Homo sapiens: one gene and its partner. The protein of the gene in region 1 interacts with the protein of each later gene in a pairwise test. Each region holds a gene or a part of one and is shown in the gene's direction. Other genes may lie near its edges. The genes, in order: IVNS1ABP and AHR.

Evidence for each region.
Region 2: the proteins of IVNS1ABP (region 1) and AHR interact in a two-hybrid assay, tested with the Homo sapiens proteins (one study listed by BioGRID).

The regions. Positions count from the first base shown.
Region 1 is NC_000001.11:185,299,672-185,309,055, reverse strand, and holds part of IVNS1ABP (influenza virus NS1A-binding protein), read left to right. Parts: coding exon 1-53; intron 54-180; coding exon 181-256; intron 257-1,393; coding exon 1,394-1,567; intron 1,568-1,916; coding exon 1,917-2,042; intron 2,043-2,428; exon of another isoform or gene 2,429-2,568; coding exon of another isoform or gene 2,569-2,571; intron 2,572-3,412; coding exon 3,413-3,520; intron 3,521-7,492; coding exon 7,493-7,622; intron 7,623-7,859; coding exon 7,860-8,084; intron 8,085-8,497; coding exon 8,498-8,619; intron 8,620-8,712; coding exon 8,713-8,839; intron 8,840-8,925; coding exon 8,926-9,057; intron 9,058-9,172; coding exon 9,173-9,346; intron 9,347-9,384. UniProt on the Homo sapiens protein: Involved in many cell functions, including pre-mRNA splicing, the aryl hydrocarbon receptor (AHR) pathway, F-actin organization and protein ubiquitination.
Region 2 is NC_000007.14:17,327,800-17,337,183, forward strand, and holds part of AHR (aryl hydrocarbon receptor), read left to right. Parts: coding exon 1-49; intron 50-2,152; coding exon 2,153-2,276; intron 2,277-2,956; coding exon 2,957-3,087; intron 3,088-6,112; coding exon 6,113-6,315; intron 6,316-7,087; coding exon 7,088-7,197; intron 7,198-7,845; coding exon 7,846-7,987; intron 7,988-9,384. UniProt on the Homo sapiens protein: Ligand-activated transcription factor that enables cells to adapt to changing conditions by sensing compounds from the environment, diet, microbiome and cellular metabolism, and which plays important roles in development, immunity and cancer.

The DNA.
Region 1 (9,384 bases):
GATCTCAATCCAGAAGCTGTTGAAGTCTTGTTGAATTATGCCTACACTGCTCAGTAAGTACATTTGAAGTAAACCATATAATTAGGGAATATCTTCAGAAAATTCCAAGTCTTGCTACATATATTTAAATTAAGTGTGTTTTAAGGCTTTGGTATCATAAGTAACTTTTTTTTTAAATAGGTTGAAAGCAGATAAGGAATTGGTAAAAGATGTTTATTCTGCAGCAAAAAAGCTGAAGATGGATCGAGTAAAGCAGGTAGAGTATCAGAAGTAAATAAAATCATTTATGGAGTCTTATTTTGTGTGATTGCAATGCTGAATTTGTCATAAAACATCTTGTTAGTTTCAAGGACTTGAACATGTCCCTTTTTTCCCTCAGAGTAGTCAATATGTTATTTTAACTGTTTGGCTATAATAATGTAGCAAGATCACACTTCTTCTCAGATAATTTGGGCTGAAGTCTGACCCTTTCAGCAATCTTCTCTGGTAGGGTGGCTATGTCAGCCTTTGATAGCATGAATTAAAATTAATATTTTTCTTAAGAGTTAATCACATAACTTATATCCTCAATTCTGTGTTCTCCTAAACTTCCTGTGCTCTCTAAAAGTATTCCTTCTAGAATTTAATGCCAGTAAAAAGTACTTTTGGAAAACAGGCATTTAATCCCCTAATGCATGGGGGTCAGTAAACTTAAGGCCTACTGGCCAGCTGCCTATTTTTATAAAGTTTTATTCAAACACAGCCATGTGTGTTCATTTACATATGGTCTACACTGCTTTCCAGCTACAGTGACGGAATTGAGCAGTTGTGACAAACAGAATGGCCTACAAGCCTAAAATGCTTTTACTATCTGGCCCTTTAAGAAAAAGTTTGATTTGCTAGCCCTTCTTCTAATACCACTCCTTTGTTCAAAAATCCTTCCTTAATTTACAGTACATATCCCTGCATTTAGTTTCTAGATTTTCCCTTATATAGTTGCTGTCTTTCCAAAACTATTTCCTAGTTATCTTTTCTCCAACCAAATTAAATTGTTTGCAGCATCTTCTCTACTTCTGTCTGCATTCAACATCAACATCATCTCTCCTGTAGAGCCCAGTTCAGATACTGCGTTTCATGAAGCCTTACCAAATTATTCTACTTGAAAATACTTATGTGAACTTACATAGCATTTCAATTTGTTGTACCTCTCCTTAAACTAAAACTTACATATCTGTATGGCATAATTAGATGTTTATCATTTGTATACGTGTTATTACCACTATTAACATTTGTTGTATTAAGACAGTGATTTTTGATTCTTTGTATCTTCACATAGTCTTTACCACACTGAACATTAAATATTTGTTGAATAAAAGATATGTAAGTGTTGGCACTCATATATTTCTTTTCCAAGGTTTGTGGTGATTATTTACTGTCTAGAATGGATGTTACCAGCTGCATCTCTTACCGAAATTTTGCAAGTTGTATGGGAGACTCCCGTTTGTTGAATAAGGTTGATGCTTATATTCAGGAGCATTTGTTACAAATTTCTGAAGAGGAGGAGTTTCTTAAGCTTCCAAGGCTAAAGGTAAGGAGTAAAGTCTATAAACAGATATATACTATCTAGTTCCAGGCGTGGAATCTTGGTCTGTGTTTCAAGCAAGTGAGTAATGATTATGAAATAATACATTGAAATTATATTGTTATTCTTAGCAGCGTAATGGGTTTCTCCCTACCAGTTTGTTTACTTTGTTTTTGATTCAGTAATCAAATTCCTTACAAATTCCTGGTTCCTTACAAATTCCTGGTTCCTTACAAATTAGAGTAAATGTATGGAATGAATTGTGCATCTGTGACAACTTTATTATGAAATTGGGAATTAAGCTGAGAACTAGGAGCCCAACACTGATCCATGTCATTGTTTTTCCCAATTCTAGTTGGAGGTAATGCTTGAAGATAATGTTTGCTTGCCCAGCAATGGCAAATTATATACAAAGGTAATCAACTGGGTGCAGCGTAGCATCTGGGAGAATGGAGACAGTCTGGAAGAGCTGATGGAAGAGGTTAGTTTTAAAGTAAATGGGATTCAACCATTTTTAAAAATTATTTTGCTATAACATGAAGGATTCCCTTTCACTTTTATTTTATAACCATGACCCTAAAGAATTTAAATTTTGCTATAGGTACCCCTAAGCTGAGAAACAGGGGGGGTGTCCAGGTGAGCTGAATGAACTGTTCAGTTTGGTCTTCTGCTTTTCTTTTTTTATTTCTTTGCTTATTATGTGCTGTTAACTTTCTTTAAAGTAGCATGTAATTTGCTTTAGAAATGGGAAGTGGTACTGAAATTTTCTGTAGATTCTTAATTTTTCTTCACAGGTTTTTGCTTTAAATTTGACAAGTAGGTAAAAGCTTCTAATGGTTGTTCCTCCCCATTGATTTATCTCCCCATAGGTTTATTAACAAAACTAGGATACCCAAGACTGAAGAAACAAGAAGAAACCTCAAGTGTATTGACACGTAAAGAAGCAGCAGTCCTGCCCCAGTTCTCCTAAGAAAAATCCGCTGTGGGCAGAGAACGATGATGATTTAATGGTGTTTACTCCTTTACAGGATTCTTGTCTTTAAAGCTGTGTGTTTTTCAATGGTGTTGTTCATACATATAGTCACTCACTTAACTTGGGCTACTTTTAAAAAAAATACACAAGATAAAATTGATGGAGAAATGGTGGGAATTGAAAACACGCAGGTGGAGCAGTGGAGTAACCTTGAGTTTCTCTCTCCACTTAAACCTTTCGGAGTTCCTTTATGAGGGCTTACCAAATCTGTTAGGCCTGCAGAAACACTGTCATCATTATGGTCTAAAAGGGCTAACAGATTATCTTTAAATTCTATGATTCCCACTTGAAAGTCAGATGCATTTGCCATGTATTTGCATCTGTCTCAATGGAGATGACTCTACAGCTTGCTTGAATTTTTGCATTTGTTTTTTCTTTGTTTTTCTTGACATTGCTTACAGGAAGGAAATATGTTTATGCAAACCAGACCACTTATCTGCAAAGGTGTAAACTATATTCAGTATTTTATTGTAAATATGTATATTCTTTAAGAGTATATATTGTACTAGTGCTTTTTTTCTTACTGTTATATGATAGAAGCTATGAAAAAAATGAAGATTTCTTTCAAGCCAATCAAGCCAACGACTCTTCAGCCAGTATTGGAAGATTTTGTATTTGATTTTGGTTTTTTGTTTTTGTTTTTTAATTTTTACCACCATGACATGTATTTTTCTTTACCTCCGGATCCTGCCAGAGTAATATGTCAAGAAGCTCAAGAAGCACACTGGAGGTTACCTTGAGGCGTTTGTGTAATCTGCATACTAGTGGAGTAGCCATGGTGACCGTAGCCACATGGGTGTTCTGTTGCTGTTTTGCAGGTTCAAACCTTGTACTACTCAGCTGATCACAAGCTGCTTGATGGGAACCTACTAGATGGACAGGCTGAGGTGTTTGGCAGTGATGATGACCACATTCAGTTTGTGCAGGTACACATTGCACAGTCTGAGGTAACCTCAGGTTAAAATTTGACTAGAGAATTTGATAGCATACTTAAATTTTCCTTTAATAAAGGAAAGTGGACCAATTTCATTGGTATAACTGGACAGAAACATTTTTGGGAGAAAACAAGCATATCTTAGAGTTAGTATTTTTGCCACATGAAAAGATATTAACAAATTAGGAAACCCTATTGAAATTTTTTTCTCATAAAGCAGGAATTACAAACAGTAAAGGCCAATAAGATGGAACAATATAGAAATTATTTGGGAAGATTATGAAAAGCAGTTGTTTGTGTCAGGCATGACTGATAGTTTTTTTTAAAAAGGGGCAGGGGGACTTAAATTGTTGATGGCTATGAAAGAAATTTTTGGATGTTACCTTAACTACTGAGCTGTCTTACTGGAAATTAGAAATGGTATAGTTAAGATGGACTATACAATGTAATAAGTCTAAAAGTGGTGGATCATATGTTAAAACCTGATCTAGATGTTTCTTTAACCAAGATGAATTAAAATATAGTAGAGTTCCACTGTGCTGATTGAGTTACTTTGCCTTTTATAAAATCCAATTTCATTTTTCCCCTATGAGTAAACACATAATTATTCAGACACATTATCAACAATTACTAGAGAACAAACTTCTCAAGTATAAATTTTTTAAGTTTATGGACAAATACAGAAAAGTACACAAGTCATAATTACCACATAGTGAACCTACCAGTGTAAACACTACCCAAGTCAAGAAGAGGTTTCTAGCATCCCGGCAGCCTTTCTCTTGCCTCTTCCCAACCGTTTCCGTATAGTGCTCCCAAAGGAAACCATTATCCTACCTTCTGACACATTAAATTAGTTTGGCTATGCTTGAAAAAATTTATATAAATGGTCATATAGTATATATTTTTATTTGGCCTTTAGCTCAAATTATGTTTTTGAGGGACAAGCTATAAAGCAGTCGACTCAGCCCAGACTAAGGAATGCTTTTCTTTAAAAATCAGAGGGTAAGTGGTAGACTTAGTAGTAGCCTATATGGTTACAAATTATCAGGTGTTAGCTCTCTCAGGTGTCCTGTGGCAACAGTGAGTGAATATTTCTAAAAGTTTTGGAATTTGAATTAGTTGAGAACCTATGTTTGTGCATTTTGAATATATTGAGGATATTTTCCCCCTTAACTCTAAACATTTTGAGTTAACATTTTAAAAGTACATTTTCAACATGCAGAGGTTGAGTGCCCAATAAGTGGCAGGCCATAATGTTCGGTATGGCAACACAAAAATGTGTAAGAGACAGTTTCTGCTTGTAGGACCTTCTAAGAGTGGGCAAAACAATACAGGCTTATAAGAGGTAGCTACGAAAGGCCTAAAGGAGAGGACACAGTGAGACAGGAGAGAAGCCAGGGATATTTCACACAAGAGGTAACTTTTGAGCAGTGTTAGGATTTAGAGGAGTCTGCATAGCAGATAAAGGGAGAGGTGTTAGCAAAGAGTATCTGTGAGGATGATACTCTTGGAATTGCAGGTCATAAGACTGGGAAAGTAGGTAAATGCTCCCTGAATGGGGCTTATACTTTATCCTATAGGCAGTGGGAAGCCTTAGGTAAGAATACAGTGATACGAAAGTTTTGCATTCACTTTAGTAATGGTGAAAAACTGGGGAACAGTCTATTAGGTGGCAGTCTTTGGGCTGGAATATCCCAACTGATTTCTGGTTTTATTTTCTAAAATTGTTGCCTTGGACCCTTCCTATTTTTATAACCAGACACAGAAAATCAATAAAAGTTTGAGCCCAGTTTATAGACTATTGCCAGCAGTAGTTCAGGTTTTAAAAAAATGATGAGGGATTAATCTAGGGGCATGAAGGAGAAAGGATAGATTTTTTATTTATGTCTATATATAAATAGACATTTATATTTACAAAGGTTGACTTAGCAGGCCTTAGTGATTGCTTAGCAAGATTAGGGAAAAGAAAGAATTTGAGAATAAGTGGGATTCTGACATGTGTGACTCATTAGAATGTGATGCCATGAATAGAGATCATGAAGAGGATGCGAGGGACACATGTTAGACTTCAGGAATAGAAAAAGGAGGTTGAGAAGAAGCCATTAGAAAAGTCAGAGGACAATAAGAATCTAATCATGTTGTAAAAGCTACCTAAGGTAGGAGAAGAAAGTTTGAAGGAGGACTAAACACTGTCAAGTTCTCTGGGAGGTCATGTAAAATAAGGTTTAGGGATATATTCTTTACATATAAAGGATTTAATCAGCATTTCTATATTAGGCTTGTTATTAGGCATTGCTTTTGGGCCTTTCTCTTTCACAGTCATTTTCTCTTAATTATAGTTTGTACATTAGAACAGTTTTTTTACTTCAGTACAGCCTCAATGTAAGCATCATCCATTTGTGATATTTGGATCCCTTCTTCCCATAGGTTGGGATGAGGTTTTATGTACCTTGTAATTCATAATAATAGATAAGGTTAGATAAGTCTAACCTTATTTTTTATTCTTAATATTCATAGTATAAAAGTGATATGAAAGATGCATTCACAACTTTAGTAACAGTGGAAAACAGCCTGTCATAGTGTAAATCTGTTTTATAGTATGACATAACTTGTCATAGTATAAAAAGGATGGGGTTTATCTTCATAATTCCTAATCTTTATTTTAGTTGTATTGCCTTGGGCAATGCATATCTTCTTGAGTTTCAATATTTTTATCTATAAAATGGGTAGATAATATCACCCTCACTGGACTAAAAGAGATGATGTAAATAAAGTACCTAGTAATACCTAGGTACATAGTAAACATCTAAGTGGAATTTAATCATAACCATTGATAATGATACATTCCCTGCCTTTTCTCAAAATAGCCTACGTATGTTGTAACCACACTCAGGCCTAACTTTTGATATAGCTTTTTCTTAATAGCTTCAAGTAGCTAGCAAAATCTTTTTCTCAATTACTTGTTATATGGCTTTTTGCTTCCACTAGCAACAGAAATTTCCATTAGAAATTTTACCTATCCATGTGTTCTGGCCATCTGGACCAGCACAAGTGGGATGAGCAAACTAGGCCAGGTGCTGAAGTTGCTACCTGTTCATTTGGCAGTTCCTCTCAGAGTAGTCTTTACTCTTCCAATTCCATATGATCATATCCTTTGGAAGTGGCAAAGGCTAAAGTAATTGGAAGGAAGCCATCAAGGAAAACTCATACATGAGAACACATGTGTAAAGTAGTTCTCTTACAATCATTTGGAAATTGGCAGCTTTGTTCATTTCTCCCTCTTTAGTATTCCTGTATATTCTACTTTTGTGAATATTTGGTTGTTTTTAGTAATGTTTCATTTCTGATTACTATTTTCTTGTGTTTTGATGTAATTTTGTCTAGAAAACCACTCTATAATACCTATAAGGTAATCCTAAAGAAATATTCTTTAAGTGTTTCTTGTAATTGCCACTTTTTTCCTGTCAAGTACTTTCAGAGAAACTGGATGAATCTATATCTGCTTACGTTTTGCTGGCATTGTATGAAGGATACCTGTACATATGATTTAGTTAGGTTTGACAATTTCATGAAAATAGTGGGTTAAATGTATTCTCTGTTAATTCACACTATTTTAAATTTATAGCATTCTTTTAAAAGATTCTATACTTAATATAAAAATAATTATAGATTGGTTTTTTCTTCTGCTGAGGTCTTGATTTGCAACATGTTTTTCAAATTGTTAAAACTGAGCTTTTTCTTACCTAGGCTAATTGTGTAGGCGTAGTTGTCTCATCATTGAGTGGAGATGGAAGTATGCCAGTAATTTGTGTCATTTGGAAAGTGTTGGCTTGAGTTAAAGTTAGTGTCCTATAAATGTCATATATAGGTGAAGGATACTCAGTGTTGTGGAATAGCTCAGGAACAAAGGTACATCAGATGTGGTCTTTGGCTAGGTTTCTGTAGCTACCTTTTGATTTTGCAGAAAAAGCCACCACGTGAGAATGGCCATAAGCAGATAAGTAGCAGTTCAACTGGATGTCTCTCTTCTCCAAATGCTACAGTACAAAGCCCTAAGCATGAGTGGAAAATCGTTGCTTCAGAAAAGACTTCAAGTAAGTATATGACACTTGCCAGATTGTTTTCAGCTTACCTATTTTTAAGAAGGAGTGTTGCCAATTTAATACCTCTTAAATTGACTACTCGAGGAAAAAACTCAGAAGCAATTAAATTTGGAAAACGAGAGCAGATTGTTCCAGTCTGGGATGTGGAGACTGGAGTCCAATTCAGGATCATATACACAAACCAAAAGTAATAATTACATCTTAAACATGGAACTCTTGTGCTTACAGATAACACTTACTTGTGCCTGGCTGTGCTGGATGGTATATTCTGTGTCATTTTTCTTCATGGGAGAAACAGCCCACAGAGCTCACCAACAAGTACTCCAAAACTAAGTAAGAGTTTAAGCTTTGAGATGCAACAAGATGAGCTAATCGAAAAGCCCATGTCTCCTATGCAGTACGCACGATCTGGTCTGGGAACAGCAGAGATGAATGGCAAACTCATAGCTGCAGGTAAGAACAGAAGCATTCAACTGGCTAAGCATGTAGATGGGCATTTTTGTGACATGCAAACTTTCAAAGAGAGGGTTTAATATGCCATCTTTCACGGCAATCCAATAAGATAGGGAAATAACAATACTATTGAATATGGCTAACCTTCAGTTCAATGTCTGTATCTAATTTTTAAAAAAATTATGTCATGGCTAAATTTTTCTAATATTCAAGCCAAGACTAAGCAGTTTATTTGTACTGATAATGCGATTTTTCAGCTATTACAAGCACTTAGTTAAAAGATCAACTAAGGCATCCTTAAAAAGTTTTAATACTTTTTCTCATTGTGCAGATTTCTTAAACTTACAGGACTGGAAACCGTGGTCCAGTTTAATATTTTAAACATAAATCTTTATGGTTTTATTTTTTACCAGGTGGCTATAACAGAGAGGAATGTCTTCGAACAGTCGAATGCTATAATCCACATACAGATCACTGGTCCTTTCTTGCTCCCATGAGAACACCAAGAGCCCGATTTCAAATGGCTGTACTCATGGTAAGCGCATTATGTTGCAGGAGCAACCCCTATTTAGCTTTTTCCTCGTAACTTCAGGATGTTAGAAATTCTCATCTCTCACTTTTGGCATAGGGCCAGCTCTATGTGGTAGGTGGATCAAATGGCCACTCAGATGACCTGAGTTGTGGAGAGATGTATGATTCAAACATAGATGACTGGATTCCTGTTCCAGAATTGAGAACTAACCGTTGTAATGCAGGTAATAATAGTTTTCTCCTGAGATATCCAGTATTTAAATATGATAATTAAATTATCAATATGTAACTTTATTTTATACTTACATAGGAGTGTGTGCTCTGAATGGAAAGTTATACATCGTTGGTGGCTCTGATCCATATGGTCAAAAAGGACTGAAAAATTGTGATGTATTTGATCCTGTAACAAAGTTGTGGACAAGCTGTGCCCCTCTTAACATTCGTAAGTTGATTTTTTTTCCTTTTTTTTTTTAAAGACCTTCAAATCAACAGTATGTGTAGTATACACTTAGAGTCTGGGAGATGTAGCAATAATCTTGACTTGACTTTTCTTGTAGGGAGACACCAGTCTGCAGTCTGTGAGCTTGGTGGTTATTTGTACATAATCGGAGGTGCAGAATCTTGGAATTGTCTGAACACAGTAGAACGATACAATCCTGAAAATAATACCTGGACTTTAATTGCACCCATGAATGTGGCTAGGCGAGGAGCTGGAGTGGCTGTTCTTAATGGTGAGTGTTGGGATTTGGAGAGGTGAAGAGTAGATAGT
Region 2 (9,384 bases), on another chromosome or scaffold:
GGTCTTTTATGCTTCTTCTACTATACAAGATTATCTAGGGTTTCAGCAGGTAAGTATATATTATTTATATCATTTATATTATTATATCATTTACTTTTTATATATATTTAGGACACAGTTGGCCATTTGTATGTATAAAGTATCAATATATGCTGTAGAATACAGTATGTATTTGTAGCTAATAATTTTTTCTAATATTAATAATTTACTGCACTATAATTCCTTTAAACCTTTATGTGATTCATGGTTACTGTGTTTCTTCTTTCGCTTATCAAGAATCTTATATATAAGAAACTTTCAGGCACGTAGGGTCTAGGGGAGAAGATACAAAATTATTTGCTATCAAATAACTTATGGATAGCAGAGGATATATGACAACTATGAAATGAATGAGATGCTGTTAAAAAGTACAAGTAAAATCCTATGATTTATACCTTTAATTCTGATTTATTTGGATTATGGAAGTTACCCTAAATCAAATGGTATGTAAGCTGACCTAAATAATGTGTAACAGGTGGGTGGTCAAGAAAACATAGGAATATTGAAGTACTGTAAGCATTAGACTGGAAGTCATTGAAGGAAACAGACGTGTCTGACTTGTTTGATGTTATTGAATGAACAGTGAATAGATGGAATTATAAATATTTGATATATTGGAAGGGCAAGAACATCTTTTATGGTTTGAGAACAGATTGTAACATTTGAATGCTTGCTATTCTCATATATCTGGTTCTCAAATTGTACTGTGCACAAGAATCACCTGAAGACCTTGATAAAACTTGGTCATCCCTGTGAGCCCCATTGTCAGATATTCTGAATCAGTAGTTCACAGTGGGGCCCATGAATTTGCATTTCTATTAAGCTCACAAGGCTGCTGGTCTTAATAACAGTTATATAGACTAGAGCTTCAACTATATTATATACCCAGTGGAAACCACTGAAGGGTTTTGTTACAGGGGGTGTGTATATTTCAACTTGTGTTTCAGATGCAACTTTTGGAAATTGTGTAATGGTTGGCATCAAGATGATTTAATACTAGAAGATTAGGTTCCTAGGAAGATTTAAGTGTAGATGACTAAAGTAGTGGTATCTAGCTACTACTGCTACCACAAAGTCTAAACTCCTGATTTCTTGCATTCTAAAGAAAATACATTAATGTCCATAGAAAAGCCTGTTTGAAGCCTAATGTATTATATAACTGTCTTAATCAGGATTTGATATTGTGATTTATATTAGTAAGAAAATCAGAGAGATTAGCCATTTTCCAATCCATTTTTTTCTCGCATATACACATGGATTTTTTTCCTAAAAGAATATTCATATCTGACGCAAGTGGTAGATTAAGACACCATTTTTAAAACTGCAAGTTATGACTCGCTCATGGGTATGCAGTCGAGACAGTGGATCACTATCAAACTGTTTTTTAGTTGTTTAGGATAGAATAAAATAATATAGAATACACAGTGTTATCTCATGTAATAATGGTAAGTGTTTTGTGAAACTTTTCCATGTGTTTATGTCTGTGCACACACCTGTGACAGATGGAAATGTATTTTTTATCATAACTTGCAGTTAAAAAAAAAGGAAAACTCTGGTTTAAGCACTAAGGACTCAGCACCGTAGTAAATGGTGAGAGGCAAGAGAAGGAAAGTGGGTTTAATATGGTAAAGGCACAATCCCTTGCTCTTGTGGAGTCTACTTGGAGTGAAAATTTTATATGAAGAAAATTTTAGAGAACAGTGAAGGAAATACATAAAGAATACCATTAAGCTTAGAGAAGTCAAAGAGGCCTGGGGTGGTTAGGAAAAGCTGCATGGAAGAGATAAGAATCTAAAAACTAACAAATGAATATGGAACATAAACAGATTTTAATATGTTGCATTTAAGGAATGGGGATGTGACTTATTTGAGCAAGAGCATTCATGTTGGGAACTGATGACAAGTAACTTTTGGCTTATCTGTTGTAGTGCCAGTCTCTTTAGCTTTTTCTACCTTAGGTTCTATCTTAGGTGACTAGGGAATTTTAGGAATCATTCAATTCGTATTCATCACCACTAGCAAGCACCCACTAATCTAAATAGGCTTTAAAATTAATTTAGCCATATTTTTTAATCAGTCCTTTTGTTGTATTCCTTGTATCTTTTTTCTTTAGTCTGATGTCATACATCAGAGTGTATATGAACTTATCCATACCGAAGACCGAGCTGAATTTCAGCGTCAGCTACACTGGGCATTAAATCCTTCTCAGTGTACAGAGTCTGGACAAGGAATTGAAGGTAAGAATTGATGGTACAAAAAATAGTGTTGGTAGTTTTTAAATATGAGTCTGTGAAAGGAGGCTGGGAACCTGTAGGGTCATAGAACTCCATGATAGGGAAGTAGTGGAAAGATGTAAAGTCTGCAATCATAGGCCACAGCTAGGTCACAAAGAGCCTGATGAGCTAAGGAATATTTTGGCAAATGAGAGCCATTTAATGAGTTTCAGGCAACAGAGTATTGCCATAGTCAGTAATGTATTTTATAAAAATAAGTAGTACCTTCATGAAAGATGGAAGGAAGGTACAAGGTTGATACCTGAGTGCATGTAAATTATTGTGTTTAAAATGCACCAAAGAAAAAAGTAAGCTAGCATATGCAAGTATAAAAATGCTTTTCTCAATGCAAAAAATGTTTTTGGAAATTTGTTAAAGTGTTAAGAAAACAAAAATGCATTAGAAAATATGAAAATTGTTGACAGTGATAGCTCAATAAAAATTTAAAAAATTATGCAAGTTCTATCTGATAAAAGTGATATTTAATAAACTTTTAGTTTCTTGTCATTAGCTCTTTTGAAAATGATTTTTTTGTATTCAGAACACAGACTCCAGTTTAGAAACTAATACAAATTTTACCTATTCAAGTGCTTAATTTTACAGCAAAATGGAAAGTAAATTTTGTTTTGCCTTTATTTCTACAGAAGCCACTGGTCTCCCCCAGACAGTAGTCTGTTATAACCCAGACCAGATTCCTCCAGAAAACTCTCCTTTAATGGAGAGGTGCTTCATATGTCGTCTAAGGTGTCTGCTGGATAATTCATCTGGTTTTCTGGTAAGGTACAAAATTTTATGATACTGGCTTTTACTATTGTTACAATAAAAGCTTGAGGCAAATTTAATTTAGCAAAATATAATTCAGCAGAGAACTATTCCCAAATCAGGCAACCCTCAGAACCAGAGAGCTTCAGAGAGCTCACTTAAAAACATGGGCTGGAGCATTTATGAACAGAAAATGCAAGTGAGGTACAGAAATGGCTTGATTGATTACAGCTTGGGATTTGCCTTATTTGAAGATGATCTGATTAGTTGGCCACCTGTGACTGACTGAGACTCAGCTATTTGGTTACAAAAGTTTAATTCTACTGTTAGGCTTTCCGTTAGCTTATATAGTAAATGAAGTTGCAATTCCTTGGTAAGGACTTAAGGAGCAGAGGCATCTTCAGCCCAAATTTAGTTTAACATTAAGTTATAGAAAAAACAAGCCAATTTTCTTTGGTTATCTTTGATTTCAGCTTTAAAAATCTGCTACCAAATAATTTGATAAAGGAAAGTAACATTTTAAAGTAATTATTTCTGATTTTGACTATCTTCTATAACTCAGAAAACTGTTCTTTAGGATATAGTAACAAAAATTGAGTGAAATAACACGAAGCCTTGTATTTTGACTATTTTAGGATTTTTAAGGTATGAGAGAATTATGTAGCCCTTTTTTAATAGGAGGATGCTTACCATCTTGGGATTGAATGCCTGCTAGACAGAGAAATTATGGCCTTTCCATATGTCTCAAATAACTGCCACATAGAAAAACGATTGTATATTCATGATTGTGGAATCATCATTTGATAGGAGATGCTGTTTTCTTGTTACAAAGTCTGAACACCTGCATAGGAGTTGACTGTAGGGAACAGCTTAGGATTCCTCAGAGTGGACTTGTCTGTTATCTCATTGTATCCTTAGCTCATGTTACCAAGTACAGGAGAAGAAAATACAAAGTATATTGTATATTCTTTTTGTGAATAACAAGGAATTTGAAACAGATAATCAAATCTTAAATTAACATTACCAAGCAATGATTTTTGTTTATGTGTTTATTTCTGAAGAGGATTTTGCTGACCCAGAATTAGAATTATGCTTTGAGACAGTTTTCCCAGTGTTATTGCTCATGAACAATTAGTATGTAGAGTCATGTCCTGCATAATGATGCTTTGGTCAATAACAGACCATGTATATGATGGTAGTCCCATGAGATCATAATGGAGCCGAAAAATCCCTATCACTTAATGATGTCATAGCATTGCTCACATGTTGATGGTGATGCTGATGGAAGCAAACCTGTGTTGCCAGTCATATAAAAAGTATAGCACATACAATTATATATGATACATAATACTTGAAAATAAAACAATAATAAATCACTATGTATTTACTATTAATCATTATTTTACTTTATTTTTAAATGTATTATACTTTTAATTATTTTATTTTAATCATTATTTTAGAATAAGGTTAACTGTAAAACAGGCTCAGGCAGGTCCTTCAGGAAATATTCCAAAAGAAGGCATTGTTATCACAGGAGATGACAGCTCCATGCATGTTATTGCCCCCGCAGACCTTCCAGTGGGACAAGATGTAGAGGTGGAAGATAGGATCATTAATGATCCTCACCCTGTACAGACCTAAGCTAATGTGTGGGTTTGTGTCTTAGTTTTTAACAAAAAAAGTTTAAAAAGTAAAAAAATTAAAAATTAAAAAATAGAAGAAAGCTTATAGAATAAGGATATAAAGAAAGAAAATGTTTTTGTATGGCTGTACACTGTGTTTAAGTGTTATTACAGAAGAGTCAAAAGTTAAAAATGCAAAAGTTTATGAAGTAAAAATGTTACAGTAAACTGTGCTGGGATTACAGGCATAAGCCACTGCACCTGGCCAAAAGGAAAATATTTTTTATAAATTCAGCGTAGCCTAAGTGTATAGTGTTTATAAACTCTATAGTAGTGTACGGTAATGTCTCAGGCCTTCACATTCACTCACCACTCACTCACTGACTAAACCAAAGCAACTTTCAGTCCTGCCTACCTTGTTTACAATAAGTGCTCTTATACAGGTATACCATTTTTTGTCTTTTATACTGTATTTTTACTGTATATTTTCTATGTTTAGATACACAAATACTTACCATCATGTTACAATTGCTTTAAGTATTCAGTACGATAGCATGCTGTACAGGTTTGTAGCCTAGGAACAAAAGGCTATACTGTATAGCTTAGATGCGTAGTAAGCTATACCATCTAGGTTTGTGAACCTACCCTCTGATGTTCACAGGATAATGAAATTGCCTAAGGACACATTTCACAGAACATGCCCCTTTTGTTAAATGACATGTGAGTGTATGTCTGAGGTGGAATATCTGTGTGCAGGAGGGCCTTTTCCTCCTTGTGCTGCTATTATTTTGATGTCAGAACCATCCCTTGGACTGGTTGATATTGTTTTAAGCAATTAAATATATCATGTTCATGTTTAAGTGCCTTTGTTTTCCCTGTCTTCTAAATTTCTTCCATATCTTTACTCAGTAGGGCTCTGCATTCTTTATATGTTTTCATGATGATTCATTTTAGTGTCTTAATAAAATTATATTTTGCCTCTATAGAAAAGATTATGAACTATGCAGTATGCTATGAGCTGTGATATAGTTCATGTATGCTTGAAAATGAATGTTTACTTTAGGACTTTATCACCATTCAGGATATATTGATTGCCTGGTGTGCAAGGAGCTGTGTGAGGTGAAAATGATAGGGTAATGGCAAGCTTGGAAAATGATATAGGTTTTCATGTTATGACCATTAGGAACAAGGAGTGGTTCACTTATCCCTTTAGAATATTTTTCATATTACTCTTTGAGATAGATTTAATGGGCGTCCCATGGAGAGAGGAGTGAAGGAAACTAACAGTTCTCAGCTTCAGGAATATTTATGGAATTATCAAGAACCCTAGAGGCAGCCATAATGGAGCCTTTTAAAAAGGCACTATTTTATATTGTTAATTTTAATGAACTTTTTTGTTGTTGTTGCTTTTTTAAGGCAATGAATTTCCAAGGGAAGTTAAAGTATCTTCATGGACAGAAAAAGAAAGGGAAAGATGGATCAATACTTCCACCTCAGTTGGCTTTGTTTGCGATAGCTACTCCACTTCAGCCACCATCCATACTTGAAATCCGGACCAAAAATTTTATCTTTAGAACCAAACACAAACTAGACTTCACACCTATTGGTTGTGATGCCAAGTAAGTGAGACTTTTTCACTTTTATTTTATTGGATGTACATTATGTTTCAGTAAGTCTCTCTTAGCATGTAAAACATACAGTGTATGTAATATTGTTTATTATTAGATTGGCTATTATCGTACATTCTTCCAGTGTAGCCTTTTACAGTAAAATAATTTAATCAGGCTCACAAATCATCTTTTTAATTTTTGCAATACTTGTCTCAAATGATGATGTTCTTATATATTAGTAAGGTTTATTCTTCTGATGACATTTATGTTGGTTTGTTTTACATTTTTAAATGGCACAAATGTTATTTGATTTCTAGCCCCAGAAGTTTTAGTAACTTTCAGAAAATTGTGAGCAGGAGTCTGATATTAAACATTTATATCATATCAAACATATCAGTGCTTTTCTCCTTTCTAATGTGGGAATGCAGAGAGGTAATTAGAAAAACCTTCTTCCCTAAAAATAGATTATAAAAACATTCCAGATTTTTATTAAAGATGTTCTGTTACCCATACATCTGCTCTATTAGATTCATTTTTAGCATACTAATTTCCATGGATTTATTCAGGAAAAGAAAATAGGCTGAAACTGAAATTTGCAATCATAAGCAAAGAAGATCAGTTTACATGGATGTGTTTAATTTCACATCTACTTATGTGAAATTCTAAATGTGAACTAAAACATATTGCAGAAACTAGCGTAAAACCAATGAATTTATCTTGGTTATTTCATTTATGTTAAATCTTAATCCATTCTTATTTTACCTTTTTTTATTTTAAACAGAGGAAGAATTGTTTTAGGATATACTGAAGCAGAGCTGTGCACGAGAGGCTCAGGTTATCAGTTTATTCATGCAGCTGATATGCTTTATTGTGCCGAGTCCCATATCCGAAGTAAGTTGTAGTTCCTTATGAACATGTCAGAAGAAAACGGCATATACTGTTGTACATGTTTCAAATTCTTACGTAATGTAAAGTGTTTAAGTAAAGTATATGGATAAACTTCTACTTAGTAACATATCATTATGATTAACCAGGGTTACACTCTTTGTTCATTAACTTGTCTACACCTGCCATGTAGAAATATTGTTGTTTAGTTATTAAAAAATGACCATTTTGGCCCATGAAGTTTTGCTTGGGAATTTTTTAATTACATCGTTATCAATTCATAAATCTATGTTAATATTGTAACAATAATAGTGTTAATAATTCTAGTTTAAAATTATAAAGTATTAGGCTGTAGGAAAATATTCCCTATTTAAAATGAAAATAATTTTTTCCCCAACTTATGTTCTCTCTATACTTTCCTGTGTTACTAGAATTGTTTGGTACATAATCTTCCCTTTAACATTTAAAATAATAAATTTAAAACAACTCTGAAAAACTATTTCCATGCCTTTTATTATTTTTTGTTTAAAATTTATTGTCTTTGGGGATAAAGGAAATACATCCAGAACTATGTCACAAGAGCTTTGTTTTAGGAATAATCTTTACTATATTGATTTGGGGGTTTGATAATTTAATTTTTTAATTTTATTTTAGTGATTAAGACTGGAGAAAGTGGCATGATAGTTTTCCGGCTTCTTACAAAAAACAACCGATGGACTTGGGTCCAGTCTAATGCACGCCTGCTTTATAAAAATGGAAGACCAGATTATATCATTGTAACTCAGAGACCACTAACGTAAGCACAAATAATGTTTCCTGTTTTAACAGTTTTGTTTTCATAAGTCCTCTTATGTGAAAGCATAAAAATAATTCAAGCAGACTTTAGTCTGTAAATAAAAATTGAAAAGTTTAATTCATCTAGAAAGAAGAGCACAGGTGAGAGACATTGAGAAGATAGAATTGACGAACTTGATTGAGAGCTACATGTGCAGAGCTATAGAAAGAATAATAAAACTCTAGGGTTTTATCTTGGGCATATGAAAGACACATGAAAAGCTAGTGTCATTGGTAAAAAAGAAGAAAAATATAACAATGCTTTATTTAGAATATATTCTCTAAACCCAGCAGTGATTTTAAGAGTTTCTTACACATGCTGCAGATGAGTCCTTTATCAAATATTTGTATTGCAAATGTTTCCTCCCACTCTGGAGAATTGATTTTTGTCTGTAGCTTGAGGTAAGGATTGATTCCCCCCAGCCATTATACGTATACCCAATTGACCAGTAACATTGAAAAGATGATTTACCGAGAAGGTCATTGTTTCCCGGCTGCGCTGTATTTTGATCAGGGGATTTTGTCTGTGGTTCTCTGTCTGGATTGTGTTGTTCTATTAATAGCTCCATTAGTGCAGTTGTCTATTTTGTCTAGCATTACACTGTCTTAGTTATTCTATCTTTATTATATATTTCTATGTCAGAGTGTGTCATTTTGTTTGTTTTGCCTTTTTTGTTCTCCTTCAAGATTGCCTTGGTTCTTCTTTGCCCTCTATAATTCCATATACATTTTAGAAAGCAGTTGTCTGAAAATCTGTTGAGATTTTGAGTGCAATTACCTTGAAACTGTAGATCATTTGGGGAGAATTAACATCTTTTTAATACTGAATCTTTGAGCCCATGAACATGATGAATGTATGTATGTGTATAAGTACCCATGGAAGTACATGAGTATGTGTGTACCATATGTATATGAGTGCATGGGTATGTGTGTACCTCTACAAATTTGTCACTTCTCCCTTGATCAATGTTTCTAGAAGGCACTTTTTTTAATTAGATTTTATTAGTCTTTATTAGGATCCAACTTTTGGTTTATTGATTTTTTTCTATTTTATACATTTGTTTTCAATTTTAATTATGTCTGCTCATTATTATTTTCTTCCTTCTACTTTCTTTGGGTATAATTTATCATTTTTTGCAACTTTTAAAAAATATATACTTAAACATATATATCAGTTTCCCTTTAAGTACAGCATTACAACCCTCATCTTTTGCTATCTTATTTTTATTATTTAATTGAAAATACTGGCTAATTTGTTTTTATTTTTATTCATGAATTATTTAGAAATACAGTGTTACTGTACTTTTTGGTGTTTGGGGATTTTTCTAGTTGCCTTTTTATGATTGACTTTTAGCTTAA